2 separate regions of the Homo sapiens genome follow, and region 1 is linked to region 2. Evidence: fine-mapped expression QTL. A gene starts in region 2. The other region holds a variant in brackets. All regions are shown on one strand. Distances are from middle to middle.

Evidence for each region. PIP is the estimated chance that this variant, and not a neighbour inherited with it, causes the effect.
Region 1: its variant is the best candidate, but not a certain one, in a credible set for the expression of PPP1R16A in whole blood (TOPMed, PIP 0.79).

The regions. Positions count from the first base shown.
Region 1 is chr8:144,620,718-144,623,615 of GRCh38, forward strand. All of the region lies in intron 1 of ARHGAP39 (Rho GTPase activating protein 39), which reads right to left. Among named protein-coding and RNA genes, the nearest start is that of ARHGAP39, 64 kb to the right of the region's middle. The variant C/T (reference allele first, on the strand shown) is at 1,415.
Region 2 is chr8:144,476,454-144,479,351 of GRCh38, forward strand. It overlaps PPP1R16A (protein phosphatase 1 regulatory subunit 16A), which reads left to right and starts at 1,529. Exons shown (of 12, transcript NM_001329443.2): 1 at 1,529-1,674. RefSeq lists an enhancer at 1-530 and a silencer at 1,405-1,834.

The DNA of each region.
Region 1 (2,898 bases), 140 kb after region 2:
ACCCCTGACCCAGTGGGCTGCCCTGAGCACCGCCTGTGCCCATCCACCTGCGTCTCCAGGACAGGCGCCTACGTGTGAGAAGATGCTGGGACAGGCAGGGACTGTGAGTACAGAAGAGGGGCCGTGAGGACCGGCAGGAATCCCTGGGGCCAAGCTCCTGAGGTGGCCACTGTGCCCTCGAGGTGAAGGTGCCGGGAAGGAACTGGGAAACTGAACAGCAACTGGAAAACGCCAGGCACAGACCCGTCCCTTGGCAGCCCCGCTGTCACCAGCCTGTGAAGGCCTGCTTTGCAGGAGGCACATGGTTGGAGGGGGCCAGACTCACCACCCAGAGCCCCAGTTGGCAGCTGTGCTGGTGCTGTCCTAGCCCCCATCACAGGGTGGCCCAAGCCCCAGCCTGCAGCTGCCTGCCCTGTTAGCATGACATCACATAAACTCTGAGCAGTCCCTGCCTTCAGCCTGGACTCTGCAGGCCAACCAGTGCCCTCTCAGAAGTTGTGCAAAGGGGCAGCAGGCCAGGCCAGCACAAGCTGCATCCTGCCAGGTCTCCCTGATGAGGGCTCTGGGCTCTAGAACAGAAACCGCCCACTTCCCAAGTTTTCCACGGCCCCCAGGGCTTCCAGGCCAACAGAGGCCCTCAAACGCAGCTTGCCAGTTCCCAGGGGTGGGAAAACCACAAACCCCAGGAAGAGACAGTCCCATGGCTTCATATCAACACGACAGGGTCCGGAGTCAAGGTGCCACCCAGAGAAGAGGTTCTGAGGCAAGAGGCGGGAAGGGCTGGGGGGCAGGGCCTGGCAGGTGGGAGGAAGACAGTGGTGAATGTAATTGACCACTGGTTAAAAGCTCATGTTGTTGGGAGGCTGAGGCAGGCAGATTGCTTCAGCCCAGAAGTTCAAGACCAGCCTGCGAAACATAGTGAAACCCCATCTCTACGAAAAAATACAAAAATTAGCAGGGCGTGGTGGTGCACATCCATAGTCCCAGCTACTCAGGAGGCTGAGGTGGGAGGATGGCTTGAGGCCCTGAGGTAGAGGCTGCAGTGAGCCAAGATATCGCCACTGCACTCTGCAGCCTGGGCGACAGGAGTGAGACCCTGTCTCAGAAATAAAATAAAACAAAAGCTCATGCTCATGTTCTCCTAAGGGATAAAACTACAGTTTCAGGCAAACAAGATGTGGTCGGCTCAGTGCGGGCCGCACACGCTCAGGTACTCCTCAGAAGAGCTGAGTGACTGCGACTTGGGTAGGAAGACTCAGAATGCACAATGTTAAGGGTGACAAAGAAAATAATCAAATCAACTGGAAAAACACAAAGGAGGAGAAACTTTCATTTACCCCACAGAAAGCAGGAAAGAAAAAGAGGAAAGGGACAGACACAGAAAACACACACAAGACTGAGCCCCCCACGGCCT[C/T]GTGCCAGCAGCGGGACACAGGCAGACCGCCTCTGCCTCGATGGGGTCTGCACAGGCCCAAGGTGAGGGGTCCCGGGCAAAGCGTGGGGGCCTTGGGGCACCAGAGGAGCGGAGGCTGAGTGGCCAAGGCTGAGGTGAGCTGCCTCTGGGAGGAATCACTTCCAGTTTCTTAACGTAGGTTCCAGAAAAACTTCAGCAATGTCCTCACACCCCCATGGCCATGTCAGCAGCCCCACCCGCCACAGGCTTCCTTCTGTGAAGCCTCCAGCCAAGTCCAAGGCTAAACCACAACAAGCAGCAGAAGGCATGGCACCTCCCAGATACTCCGGGCTCTGCCACAATGACCCGAGGGCCAGAGCGGCTGTGCCCGGAGCCGCCCTCCCAGGAGAGGAGGCCCAGTTCTGGTGGGAGAAAAACACTCCAGCCTCAGGTGCGAGCCCAGCCCACAGCACCGACAGGAGTCAATGTATTCAGAGTGGACACTTGCGTTCTGTCAGAGTAAACTATGCAGCTTTGACCAGACCTTTAATGAACAAACAAGCATTACTACCAGGTAAGATATATTTTTAAAAACTTTAAAAATCTATCACTGGGTTGGCAAGAACGTTCAGAACCTTAGAGAACAAAACCTAAGTAAAAGCAGGAACCTGGAAAAAGGAAGGCCCCGCGCAGGAGGGCCCTGGCCGGCAGCTGGCCTGCGCCCGCTCCTTTCACAGCTTTGCAGAAGTCAGGGGAGAGAGGCTGGGCCAGGCCTGGTTGCTGATCCAGTTACTGCCGGGGGACGCCCCAAGGCTGAGACTGGGAGGGTTTAGGTGAACAAGGAAGAAAGCCACCATCCAGCCCTAGGGGAAGCTCTTATCACAGTCCTGGCCCCACTCGGTCAGGACCCACAGAAACACAATATGCTGCATGCAGGCTGCAACGGGGAGGGCAAGTCCTGTGTGGACGGAGTGCTCAGAATAAAATGTTCCTGGATCTTTGAATCGTTTGGAGGAGGGCAAAAATACTAATTTTAGACTTCAACAAATTAATTCTGCATGTTAGAACATCCGAGGCAACCACTATGAAGCCAAGTGAGCAAATTCCAACCCAGTAGAGAAGAAAAAGAAACAAAAATAATCCAAAAGAAGTCAAGAAACGAAAAAGCAACTGGTCCTCAAATGACAGAGTACAAGGAAAGATGGTGGAAATAAATTTAAATATAATAATTACAGTAATGTAAATGGACCAATAGTCTAGTTAAGACAAAGACTGTCAGCAAGATTTTAAAGATCTTGGTAAAGATCTATACCAAACACATCTAAAGTATAAGGGCAGGAAATTCTAAAAGTCAAGAATGGAAGAGACAGAGCTGATGCGGCTCCATCGAGGCTGGCTCTGTGGATACAAGGCTTCCGCGACTGGCGAGGCGACCCAGACCTGACAGGCGGCCTCGCGGCACAGACACAAAGCAGGCAGACGTGTTCCAGGAGGCACCCGACGTC
Region 2 (2,898 bases):
TTCTCCTCCCTCACAAGGGGCAAGTTTGCCCAAGAGGATAGCAGCTCTGGGAATTAGCAGCGGTGGTTGGTGCTGGCACCAGGCCAAGGGCCCCCAGACACACGGGGGCCCAGGGATATGCTTTTGCCCTTCACTCTGAGAATTCAGCTTTTCTTGTGCAGCCTCCACCATGATAACCTCAAAGGGCTGAAAATCTGCAGCATACGGTGGGGTCCAGCACACCCTGAGGTGTGGAGGGGAGGGACAGGCAGCAAGTGTCCAGGAGGAGGAGGCCTGGGCCGCAAGGGGCCTTGTATGTGGGGTACCACACTGCTCCTGCCCCCCACACCCCCGGTCGGGTGGTGCCCCTTTTCCTTCTATCTCTGACTCTCCCCTCAGACGCCACGTGGTTTCCCTCAGGACTCCTGCCACCACCTCTCTGCTGTGTTCCCTAGGTTATGGCTGCACAATCCTGTGCCTCATGAGGCTAATACTTGTGGCCACTTCACCCCATTCGGTCAGCAAGGCGTCGTTCTTTCCTACAAGTGTTTGTTGTTGTTGTTGTTTTGAGACAAGGTCTCACTCTGTTGCCCAGGCTGGAGTGCAGTGGTGCGATCTGGGCCCCGTGCAGCCTCCACCTCCCCCGCTAGGGCGATCCTCCCGACTCAGCGTCCCGGGACTACAGGCGTGCGCCACAGAGCCCAGCTAATTTCTTAATTTTTGGTAGGGACCGGGCCTGCCTATGTTGCTCAGGTTGGTCTCCCGGGCTCAAGTGACCCACTGGCCTCGGCCTCCTCCCAAAGTGCTGGGATCACAGACGTGAGCCACCGGGCCGGGCCTTTCCCATAATTTTTTTTTTTTTTTTGAGACGGAGTCTCACTCTGCCGCCCAGGCTGGAGTGCAGTGGCGTGATCTCGGCTCACTGCAAGCTCCGCTTCCCGGGTTCATGCCATTCTCCTGCCTCAGCCTCCCGAGTAGCTGGGACTACAGGCGCCCACCACCACGCCCGGCTAATTTTTTTGTATTTTTAGTGGAGACGGGGTTTCATCAGGTTAGCTAGGATGGTCTCGATTTCCTGACCTCGTGATCTGCCCGCCTCGGCCTCCCAAAGTGCTGGGATTACAGGCGTGAGACACCGCGCCCGGTCTCCCGTAAGTTTTAAGGCACCCCCCTCTCCACTGGCGCTTCCTTGGTGGGGCGCTGGAGGCTCCCCAAGTTCTGACCGCTCTTCTCCGACCGCACTGTCCTGGGCCCGAAACCACCCCCAAAGCTGCCACCCATTCCGCTGGCGCCCGTCCCGTTGCCCGCGATGACTCGGTTTTGTCCAGCATAAATCAATGACCACCGTCCCGGGAGCCTTGGAGCACTTTGAGCCATTCCCGTCCCACCCACGCCCCAAGGAGGTCCCAGCCGCGGAGGACTCGCCCGGCCGCCCGCAGCTGTCCGCGTTGGCCCCCACCCCCGACCGTCCCTCCCCAGGCCCCGCCCCCGACATTTCCTCCTCCCAGGCTCCGCCCCCGGCTCCCACGGGGCACCGCGGCTTCCGGCTATGGGTACCGCGGGCCGGAAGTGTAGCGTTGCCATGGCGAGGGCCGGGTGCGGGGCCCGCCCCCGCAGCGCCTCAGGGAGCGCGGGGCCCACTGACCCGCGGAAGCCAGCGGACCCACTTGTGCGGCGGTCGGCGCGGGGCGCGAGGTGAGGCGCGGACTCCCGGGTCCTGCGGCGGGAGCGGAGCGAGGGAGAGGGGCCCCGGCCAGGGAGAGCAGTGGCGGGCCCGGGAAGGAGGGGCACTGGGTCGACACCGAGAGAGGAGGCCGGGCCGGGGAAGGATGAGGCAGAGGAGAGGGAGGAGGCCGGGAAGGGCGGGAGGAGGAGGAGACCGAAGGGAGAGAGGAGGCTGGCGACGGAGGAGGCCGGGGAGGGGCCCTCGGGAGACGCGGCTGCCGGCACGCGGGCGCCCAGGGCACAGGTCCCGCCGGGCCGCCTTGGGCGTTGCTGGCTGAGGCCCAGGGCAGCAGGTGCCAACGGTCAGGAAAGGCAGGGAGCCGAAGGCTGCCGGTGGGCGCTTCGCGTTTTGTTCCAAGGCGAAGGTGTGTGGATTCTCCGCAGCCCGTCGGTCAGGTAGACAGCTCCGGAATTGTCTTCATTTTCAGATGAGGAAATCGAGGCCGCAGAGAAGGGACTTACCCAAACTTAAGCTTTGTGTGGGCCTTGGAGCTAGGCTGAAGGAGAAAGTGGAGTCTCACTGGGGCAAGTTCCTTCAACTTTCAGGGATTCAAATGACCTCACTTGTAGTGCGGGGCGTCCGGACCACCCCTCAGGAATTGGGATCAGGGCAAGAATTACTAACTAAGCAAGCACCCCGCCTGGGAGGGAGCGTCCAGGACTGGTGTGGGCCCCTGTCTGTACCAGAGCGGAGGCCCGGGGCACGGTGGGATTAATTTCCATGGGTGCAGAGAGGGGAGCCGTGTACGGAGTCATTCTAGGCTTAGGGGAGACAGAGCAAAGTTAGCCTTCCCCAAACCTCTGTGCCTTCCTTTTCTTCCTGGATTCCTACCTGGGGGTGGAGGTGGAGGCGGGGGTACCGCTGCCTTTCTCAAAGTGTGTCTAGTCCAGCAGTGAGCCCTCCTGGGCGTCTTGGCGCCCCAGTTGCTTCCTGGACGTATTGGGGTTTCTCTGGGAGAAGGGTCTTGCCTGCAGTACCCTGGGCCTCCTGAAGAGGCCTCTGGTTGCGCTGCCTGATTCAGGGACCCAGAGCCACGACTCGCCGAGAGGAGCTCCGGCGGCGTGCGGCTGGGTTGCCTGAGGGGCTGGGGGCTGCCTGGTGGACTTGCACACATGCTGGCTCCATACCTGTCACTGTGGTGGACGCTCAGAGCTCTACAGGGCCAGCTGCCTGCCCCTGCCCCAAGTCCCCCG